2 separate regions of the Homo sapiens genome follow, and region 2 is linked to region 1. Evidence: fine-mapped expression QTL. A gene starts in region 1. The other region holds a variant in brackets. All regions are shown on one strand. Distances are between the middles of the regions.

Region 1 (5,387 bases):
AGCAGGAAGCCTATTAAATGGTCCTTTGTGATCTGTACCATTATAATGAGTACCAACATTCAGATGGATTTAAAATCAATTTAAAACAAAGCATAACATGTTTCCCTCAAGCAGGCTGACCCTTAAGTCATCACGGGCATATTTTCATTTAAATTCTTCACACTTTCGACTCAAGAAAATTAGAGAAGCATACCTGCTCTATATCCTTGGAAGTGGAGGTCTGGTTTTCTCCCATGATTCCAGGTTGCTCATTTTCCCATGGTAATTTATTTTTTCCTTTTCCTGCACTTAATACCCTTCGGGTACAGATAGTTGGGCTGTAAGATCCATAAATGTGCATGCTATCCCTCACGTGGTCACCACAGTGACAGTGTGCACTCTGAGTTCTGTTACCAGCCAAAAGCCAGTCCGTATCTGCTCCATGTGCCAAATGGTTTGACCTACCCCCGGCAGAAGATGGCATCAGTACTGCATATTCCACAAATCCCTGCTCTGTGAGCCTTGGTAAGGTTTTCCTAGCCAATCTGGCCTGCACAGCATTCATCACTCCATCTCCATTATCTTGCAGTTCAACTGTATCCACAGCTTTAAAAAGGATGCTGGTTTTACCTGAGCCCATTGATGATGCCAATACGGCAAAAGCTTCTAAAGCTGCTTGGCGTACCCTGCGTTTGCTATCTACAAGAGCTGGGGCAAGATCAAAGGACAGTTTGGGCAAGTCAAAATCCTCACTAGGATAGGTCAGCAGGGAGCAGATGCAAATGTTCACCACCTCCTCTCTCACTCTGGAATGCTTATGTTTGAGATGTTCCAGGAGTAAACAAAGCACCTGCTGAGGTCCTACTTCCTTCATTAGCTTGAGGAAGATTTTCATGTATTCTTGTTTGATCACCAACTTGTTGTCCGCCAGCACTTTGACAGAAGCTGCTATAACTGGTCCCAAGAACTGCTGTACCTGCTCTCCAAGGCGAATAACCAGTAAATGCAGGACTTCAAGTGTGCCATGCACCACTTTGAAGTTAGAATCGTCTAACAAATTATATAGCAAACTAATGAAGCCAACAAGACTAGAATGAGGAGTAGAACTAGGGTTAAATTTTCCCAGCACCTGCTTTAGTTCTTCGACGGCCTGGGTCCGGTTCTTATAGTCTTCCTGATCCAATAATCGTGAATGCAGCTCCTGAGGAATAATCCCAAATTTAAGATTGCTGTTGGAAAGAGTCACTGCACAGGGAAGGGGATCTTCAGGAAATCCAGAGGCTTCAAGTTCCAAATAATAAGGAACCTGACTTCCAAACTGGGACTCCAGGCGGCGATTGTAGTGTCTCCTCAGGGCAGAGGGCAGACGAGAAATGTAAGATTGAAACCTGTCTTGGCCAAGTCGCTCCCCAATTTGTTGAAGTGCGGAGAAAGCTGTCTCAGATTCTTCTTCTGTCTCCTGATCACCAAGCTTTCGGGCTAGGGATATTATCACCTCGGTGAGATCCAGACCAAGCAACAAGTCCTCAGTAGTAAGCAAGATGGGAAGCAGTAGTGCTGTGGAAGCTCTAAGTCGGGCATCGGTACTTTCCAGTCCTTGTTGTATAAGCGTTCTCAGCACCTCTCCAGGACTACGTTTCAGACATATATGAAGGATCTGCAGCGCATCTTTCCGCAGGGCTGGATTCTCTTCCCGTAACGAGACAACTAGTTGAGGCAAAAGTGCTAAGCTAAAGGCCTCTTCAAGCTGGCCTGCCTCCCCCTGACCCCGGAGAACGTCCGAGAGAAGTTGCAAGCAGAGCCGCTTCTCATCACTACCTCCTTCCACAAGCACTCGGCCCAGTGCCCGATACAAAGCTTCCTTGCGTCGGGGGAAGCCAAGTCGACCGCCCCGCCGCGGCAAAGCAGCTTGCAAAGCCTGGAAGGCCTCAGAAGGATCCCGGGCAGTGCGGAGGAGTTGAAGGAGCCGAGTGTCCTCTTCATCTCCCCCTGACAAACCGCCTCCAGACTCAGACCAGCTGCTTGAGACTGCCTCCGAGGGCATCAAGAGGGCCGAGGCCAGAGGCGAAGTTGTAGTGGGGCAGGAACCGTGGTCCCCCGCAGCTCCACGGAAGTAGTAGTTTTTCTCTCCTCTCATAATGCCCCCAACTCGACTATCATCGGTCTCTGGGGCGGAAGGACGACTGCGGCTCTGGAGCCGATAGGTAGAGAGGACTGGAAAGGGCGGCAGCAGAAGCAGCGCGGAGGGGGCAGCCGCCATGCAGGGTTGTCAGGTGGTGGTGGTTGGAAGAAACCATTGCCGTCTCCAAAGGGCTCGATGGAGCCCAGACTTCCAGATCCTCTCCAAGCCCCAAGCTGCAGAAGAGGCAAAAGAACAGCTTCAGCCTGCCGCCAGGCCGCCCCCAACTCCGGGAGGCAGCCTCTGGCAAAATGGCCCCCGTCTGAGCCCTAGACCCCACAGCTGCCACCGGGCGTAACCAAGGGCACCACGTGACCAAACCGATTGCTTCCATGGTGATGTACCCAGCGCGGACCTCTTGACCCGGAAATCCACTTGCCGTGATGAATGCTGGGTTATGTAGTCCACGTCAGGTGTTGAGACTAGGCCAAAGTCTCCTGGAAGAGGAAGTCAGAACGTTGTAAACGCAGCTACAGCGGAGAAGGGAGGAGGGGTGAAGCCATTTGACGGATGTGACGCTTTCCTTGCTCTGGGCGGAAGTTGCCCGCCCCACCCGTAAGAGTTAGGGTTTGACCGGAGCTAGTGAGGATCCAGCCCAGGCTCCAGTTGTCCGCGGTTCCTCCTCCTGTCGCTGCCCGTGTGATTACTGAGACTCAGGTATTTTCCTTTTGCTGTCCTCCAGCGGTGCAGGCTTTGGCAGTGTTTTGCCCGAATGCCACTGGTGCTAGAGTAAGAGGCAAAGGACTGAGCGGAGCAGGTGGAAAGAGAGGCGACATCTTCTTGTGCAGGGCTCGTCACCCTTGTAAACGCGTTACTCTCTACCACCCTGAGTAACTGCGATCCTTTCCTCTTGCCATCTGCTTATCAGGACAGAAGATCTGGACCACGGCCAAGCTCACAAATCGGGTATTTTTTTTCAATTCCTGGTCTTTGGGGCCTTTATTCGCCTCCCCCTTCTCCTTTTGTCGACTTCTCTTAACCCTCCGGCCGCAGAGGGTTAATTTTTTTTTGTTTTTGTTTGTTTGTTTTTGGCAACGTTTCCTTACCCTCATCACTTTGCGTTTTCTTTACAACGTACATAATATGGAAATAGGTCTGTTTTTTTCCCCCTGTAGCTAACCGCCTCTCCCTTAGACGTTATCAAAATCTTTCCTTCTAATGCAGTTCCTCTGTGGGACTCTCCCCTAACCTCCGCCCCCTCCGTCTGCCGCCCTAGCCTCCCTGCAGGATCCTCAAGCGTCTCTGCAGCCTTTCAGTCTCCTAGAGACAGAGATTGCGAAGACAATTTCACTTGCGGTGGAAGTTCTTGGCATCATGGTTCTAAGAGAATTCTGCCTTGTGGATTTAGGAATGATAGTAGACATTTATTTATTTTAGGCGAACTGAGAATTTTGTGTGCATTTTCTCCTCATAAGTGATACTTAAACGGACACAGTGGAAGAGCTGGAGTGTCTAGTGTGAGCCTGAATGCTTTGGAGTGTGGAAGAGATATTTTTTTTTTTTGAAGGAATAATACTATTACTTTTGAATGACTCGTGCGAAAAGTCTAAGTTATCATTTGAAGACCCAAATTTATGCACTTCAAATGCAAGTATTCCTACCCTGCTCTGTACCAGGTGGGATTTCTCTTAAATACTTTTTAAAGTCTTGGAATAAATGAGTCACATATGCCAAACAGCTTTATAAATAATGCTCCCAGCTGATGCAAGTGCAAAAATAATTTCTGGATTTTTGCCTTAAAGTACGATTTGAATATCAGTTTTGTTTTGTTTTGTTTTTGGGGGGGTGGGGGTGGGGAATAGACTATAATGTAAATGAGGCTGTGTAAATATACATCCTATGTTTTGGTTTAAATTCTAGGCTGTTACTTTGGTTTTAATGAGCCATTTTCGTGTTTAAATGAATCTGCCTAAATTAGGTTTAGCTAGCATGTTTCATTTTAGGGACAGGTTAAAGACAGGGAGGTGAAAAACAAGAAATGATTGTAGCAGTTGTCAATGAGAAAGTGTCTGGTTCTCACAGTTCCAACCTAAGAAGCTCAAATGTGTAGACTTCTAGTCATGTATTGCCCAGACTTGAGGAACCCAGTTCAAACTAACCTAGACAATGATGTACACATTACAGTGCCAGTTTATGTTGGATCAGAATTTTCAAGTTGAAAATCCAGTGCACTCTTTCTTGTATCCAAGAACTTGGGAAGCCAAGTTAATAACTAGAGGTTGTGTGGTAATCATGGAATCACAGAAAAGGAACTTCGAAAGTCTTAAATGAGAGACGTGGATACTTAAGCAGTTATCATGCCCTTTTCCTGGGAACAAAGCAAGATGAGTCTTCCTTTTGATTCTTGTTTTTTTAGATCCCTGTGGATCACTATACATTACAGATTGCAATTTATTTTTTATCTGTTACATTTTGTCTCTTTGATTGAAGACTTAGAAGAGGCATTAGTCTCCATAGTGGATATTTAGGAAATGGGACTTCATCAGCATCACGTCTTACTGATTATCTTTTAGAGTTATTTTGTGGAACATAAATCTCATTCATTGAGTGTGTATTCTTTTTATTACGAAGCAGATTTTTTTTAATCTTTGGAAATCTAGGAATTTCTCGTATATTGACTTAAAAAGCCTTTTGTATTTAATCATATATAGAGAGAGTACAAATTTGTAATCAATTTTTAGATAGTAGAATACACTATTAGGTGTTTTATTAATAGTACACCTCAGAAAGTTAAAAGGAAGTGGTTAAGGATACATTGAAAATTGCAAATTCAGCTAAAACAAGTTTAAAATTTCAATAATTTCAAGAATGTAGTTAAATTAGTGAATTATAGGAATGTGTGTGCTACATATGTTAATTTTTTTAGCTGAACTTAAGGGTAAACACAATTGCCCTAAAAACTTACTTTATTTCCAGAATCAGAGATAACACATTAGTTCCCTGGGCGAATCACTATGATTTTTCTGTGTTCTTACTCAAATTTTACAGACATCCAGGAATATTGAACGTCAGTGTGAATTCTGTAAACTATTAAGAATTTTGTGTAGTTTGAGAAGTTATTGTGAAGAAATGCTATGCAAATGAAAGTTGCTATTAATATTAACAAACAATCATAATAATACCATGTTTTGAGTATTTGCTATGTGCCATGCACCATGCTAGGTACTTAGTAAATATTAACTCATTTAATCCTCACAAGAATTTTTTGAGGTTACATCTTCTACATTTG
Region 2 (5,387 bases), 850 kb before region 1:
TGAGTACTGCATATAAATGGGGACAGGAGATTACCCCCACTTGATCTGGCAAGACTGGGCCAAAGCCCTGGGCCAAACCCTTGCATCCCCAAGAGACTGCCAACAGGAGCACCAGCTGCACTTTAAAGCAGAAAGTCTAGAACAAGAGCCCTCTGGGAGCAGACAAAGTGTGTAACCGCAAAAAGTAATATTCAGCCTACCAGGGAGTAGCCGTTTCCCAGGATCAACAGAAGGCTAAGAGGTTCCAAATTTCTTGTGAAAGCAGGTAATTTAGCCACAGATTTTTGTCTATCATGGTATTCTTTGACGTTTTTTCTTCCAACATTAGCAGTCACAAATAACATATTGAATGCTTATTATGTAATTGTCATTCTTCATTCATCGTCTGATTTAATTCTCATAACAATTCTGTGAGATAGTTGTTTTTATTATTCCTTGTTTATAGAAGTAATGGAGACTGGAGAGATTAAGTAACTTGCCCAGGGACTTGTAAGGTGGAAAGCAAACTGCAGACATAGAATTATCTCAAGAATTTTCTTTCATAATCATGATGGTTCCAAGATTTTCCATGACTTTCATTTAATTCCCAAATATTTCATTATTATCTTCTTGCCTTTCTTTCTTAGTTACTATCTGCTCTCTGACTACTACAAGGATAGAGCACATATGCGTGTGTGCATGCACACACACACACACCATGCAACTATTAACCAGTTCCAACCTTGGGCTGTGTTAATGCCAGGGAAGCACCCTAAGGGGGCAGTAATTTCCTGTCTCAACTTAGAAAGATGTGAGCCATGGTTCTCTCTATTCAATATGCATAACCTAAAGAGAAATTTCAGAATGTGCCCACTGGGAAAGGAAAGACTTTTTGAGTTTACTCTGAAGGCCTTGGCAAAAATCCAAATATTTGAATTTATTTTGTTTCTCTTCTGAGACTGTGAAATGCTTTTAAGTGTCTGCTAAATTTTGCTCTAATATATAGCAGTAGGGAGGTGCTTCATCTCCCTGGAGTCACTGGAAAAGCTCACAGAAGCGAGTTTAAGAAACAAACCTGAAAAGTGGTACAAGTCAAGCCTGTCTCTCCTCAGAGGCATCTGCAGGCTGTAAAGTGTGCTGACAGGAAATTCAGCTACCCACACGACTTTACAGCAGCTACTCAAACCAGTTTTACATTTATCCTGTGACCAGAGAGGAAGAGGAAAGTAAAAAACATTAAATGTCCTTTGCTTGGCCTCTCATACTGTTTCAAAGCATGAATGCTTGTAAAGTTGTTTAGATATCAAAGCAGACAATATGTGCTGGGTTTTATCTTGAAGGAAAAAAGAAAAATAATGTTTTGGGAATAGAGAATCTTCCAACAAATATATCTCCCATTAATGGTTTTAACTCTGGAGAAATGTTAGTCCTTATAGGATCATCAAATAATCATAAAGTGAAAATACATACTTAGATGAACAAAGACTGAAATTCATCTGTTTCACTTTTTTTAAACAAAGGGCTCCTAACAGTTCTCAGTCAGCTGTTACAATGTTTAATCATAATTTGGGCAAAAATAAAAATCTCCCTTTCTAAATGAATTCTTCTCTTGCTTCATATTAAGCCCACTACTTGTCTTTCAATCCCAGTGGAGATAGATGATAATTGGACACAATCTTTTTCACAATTCCCTTTCAATAGCTTGAAAACAGTTATGAATCTTCATCTTAATTTTTTAAACCCTCAGTATATTGACTCTCTTATAATTCATTGTCAAAATGTCCATTACTATATTTCCTCTTGATTCTCTCACTTCTCTAGAAATATACTAAAACACAAAGACCAATATTAGAGCAATTTCCTAATAAAAGTTTGAATACAAATAAATATCCTATAATACTTGTTTCTAGCTCTCTAATATCAACTACTTCTAATAGCTTTTAAAAGTAAACACTGTTAATCACTTATTGATTTTGAATTTATGATTCTGGTAAAGTGACTTACTTGTTCTACCTAGTTTGGGATAGTTTCTTTGGACATTTTATATCAGGATAAATTAAAAATATCTGTTATATGAAATTATACTGCTCCCTAAAGGTTAATATCAAATTGACTAAATATCTCTTCAATTTATGACATGACACATGGAATTTTACACATTTTCCCCAAGGTATTAGGAACTTAACCAAAATAGTGTCATCAATAATTGGATAGGAACAACATCAATTCAATCATCTGGAGAATTATAAAAGCTCAGATGAGGAAGAGCCCTTTAGAGGCAACCTAGTACAAACTTCCCACTCTGAAATGAAAATGAAAGAACAACAGATGAAATATCTTGATCAGCTCTTAGTGATCCAGGCCTGATCCCCAGGCTCGGTTCTTCCCATGTAGTATCCCTTCCGCTCTGTTCCACAGCCAATTCTCATTCAGAACACCAGAAAAATATGCTGTTATGGTTTGTTCTATGTTATTTTTCCTGCTTTTCAGCCACAGAAACACCTTTGTCCTTTCCCTGACTCTCTTTCTTCACCTAGGTAACCACTGTCCATTAATTAATTCAGCAAATATCCA[T/C]TGAGTTACTCAATGAATTCCAAGAGTATTGCCAAACCAAAGAGTAATACAATAAATTGATGCAAGTGTAATAAAAATATATGCTAAGGAGTTCTCAGACCCTTTTACCCTTTTCACACAGGGCTAAGTTCACAGGCCTGAAAATCAAGATGTCCAAGGTAGGGATAGGTAAAGCAAGAAAAGACTGGAGATACTGTCTAAGGAAGAGGGCTGTTACTGAGGATAAGTGGATTAAAAAGCCTGGATTAAAATATGTCAAATAAGAGAACTGTAGAGCTTGGTTATGTGGCATCAAAGAGAAGTCTAGTCCATTTAACAGTTCCTGATTGTTTCTGGATTAAAAAAAGGAAATTTTGTTTCTTAATTTCCTTTCTATTATCTATGTCACATCTTAGGCTAATTAATGCAAAACAATATAACTAAGTTATACAACTTATGAAATAGATGCATGTCACACCTAAGGAATTATCCATAAGATATATAAGCTTTGATCCACCAAGAAACTATTCATTCAATGACTATGTATTTTGTATCTATACAAAATTTTCTGTTCTTTCTAGTACCAAATGTGATCATTATAATAATTCTGTTACTTTTATTACATTCATCAGTCACATGTGACATTCCTGACTATAGAGTTCTTTCTACAAGTGTAATTTACTAATATCTACTAACAATCTCACTAAAAACAGCAGTTGTTCAAGGAAAACATTGCCCTTTATAATACATGTACAGACATCTAGGAATACATCAGACATGTGCATGTTCAAGTATGTATTACAAATAAGTCATGGGGTCATGAAACTTGGCAAGGTGATTTATTTTTATTTATAATGCTATGTAGAAGACATATTTCTAATTGTTGTCACAACTTGAAATATGTACTTCTTATTTTTGTGTTATCACATAGTTTATCAATTACTATCAAGCACAGGATATCTTGAACCTTTCATATATTATTGAAATATTTTCCTAGTTGCAAACACTGTGTGTATTGGAAACAGCATGGGGCAAACTGCCGCTTTTAAACCATCAGATCTCATGAGAACTCACTTACTATCATGAGAACAGCATAGGGGAAATTGTCCCCATGATCCAGTCACCTCCCACCAGATCCCTCCCCCAACACATGGAGATTACAATTCCAGATGAAATTTGGGTGGGAACACAGAGCCAAACCATATCAGTGTGCTAAAAATAGATGATGACATCCATGTAAGACACCTTCATTTTCAGTTCATCTCTCTTCAAATAATTTGTCACCCTTTATAACATGTGAACAACTAGATTGAATACTGAGAGAGAATATACAAAGGAGGCTTTACTCTGTACCTCACTATTATTATAGCTTGATTCAATGTAGAATTTTCTACAAACAAAACCCTAGAATTAGAGAGACAGTGAATTTCCAAATCATCGTGTCATTGTCCAGAGCCACTACCGAGGCACCAGAATAGGAAGTGAGTGGTTCTGATCCCTGAAGCATGATTAATGATCCTGATGTCACTGGCTATCTTTCAGCATGCAGTGGCCACATACTGCAACGCAGAGGCTATAAAAAGTGCTCTGCAGATATGCATTACCTCAGTTCATCCTTCCACAGACCCTGAAATGCAAGTAAAATGTAAGGCTGAAATTGGCAGATTAGTTCCATGCCTGTATAGTAATCTCAGCACCGGCTTGAGACACAGGCTACTCTGAAAACAATCTATGCTAACCTCAGGCCCAGCTCTCTCTTTTGGTAGTGAGTATAATGAAGTAACAGGAGCTCTTGAAAAGTTCATTCTTCAGAAAAATGACTTTCATTGCCTATGTGCTTGTCACTATGTTAAGTGTAACACATAATTTTTTTTACTTACTTTTACAATGATCCCATTAAGAATTGAATTCTTATTAACATTTTACAGATAATGAATAAGAGTCAAAAAGTAAAATAACTTTAATAAGGACAAATGTAAGAGCCAAGATTCAAGCCCCAGTCTGTCTGTGTTTCTGTGTTTTTTTCCATAGCATCACAATGCTACAAATAAAAGGTTTAATGCTGTGAAATAGTATTTGTTTTCAAAACTGCAATATAAAAAATAAGTGTTTTAATTTTTTGCAAAGTTATATAATAGTAGTATTTTTTGGAATTGTATGTGTACCCAAAACATTTTTTTTCTTTTTGAGAGCATGCCACTCAAATAAGAAACTATTCCATCTCAGTTAACTTATGTGGGAAAAATAAAAAACACACATTTCAATGAAATGATGAAAGGAAAAAGAGAGTAGTGTTTTTAATTTATGAAGACATGAGTACTACCAATTGTTTAGTTATCAACCTAAACAATTCTGGAAAATAGAATTTATGAAGTTTACTTTCCCTTAAAACAAAAATAAACGGTCAAGTAAATAGATGTAATATAGGGGAGTTAGTATCCTTCCCCTACCCTCCCTGTAGAATCATACACATTAACACATCTTTACTCATTGTGAACCCTTTTCAGAGACAAAAAAGACACAGAAATCTGAACCAAGAGGCAGGCCTGTATTGAGATAAATGTCATGTCAACTGATCTGAAACTACTGGAAACACTAGCTTAGGAGAATGTGAATAAAATGGTAAACATTCCACTGAAATAATCATAAAATTTATAAATCAATATACATTAAGAACATAATAACTTACATAAAACCAAAGTGAAAAAAAAAAAACACAGAGAGGCTGCTTAGTTAATCATCGCATTATTTTTCCTGAGTATTGACATCGTACCCAGAATAAGGTAAACTTTAAAACCACATACAAAGAACATGACCTGGATCTTCAATCCTTTTACAATCTAATCTCCAGGCTT

Direction of the effects. Positions count from the first base shown, and alleles are read on the strand shown. Sizes are in standard deviations (SD) of each study's normalised expression.
As copies of C replace T in region 2, the expression in caudate of the gene that starts at base 2,714 in region 1 goes up (moderate effect, 0.60 SD a copy in GTEx).

Evidence for each region. PIP is the estimated chance that this variant, and not a neighbour inherited with it, causes the effect. A credible set is the group of variants that fine-mapping cannot tell apart.
Region 2: its variant is the best candidate, but not a certain one, in a credible set for the expression of KLHL28 in caudate (GTEx, PIP 0.70).

Annotation. Positions count from the first base shown.
Region 1 is chr14:44,959,274-44,964,660 of GRCh38, reverse strand. It overlaps KLHL28 (kelch like family member 28), which reads left to right and starts at 2,714. Exons shown (of 5, transcript NM_017658.5): 1 at 2,714-2,815. TOGARAM1 (TOG array regulator of axonemal microtubules 1) reads right to left here and starts at 2,471. Exons shown (of 20, transcript NM_001308120.2): 1 at 194-2,471. The coding sequence starts at 2,239. RefSeq lists enhancers at 2,014-2,528, 2,178-2,987, 2,529-3,043, 3,558-3,647.
Region 2 is chr14:45,806,045-45,811,431 of GRCh38, reverse strand. No RefSeq gene overlaps it. Among named protein-coding and RNA genes, the nearest start is that of LINC02303, 93 kb to the right of the region's middle. RefSeq lists an enhancer at 1-356. The variant T/C (reference allele first, on the strand shown) is at 2,554.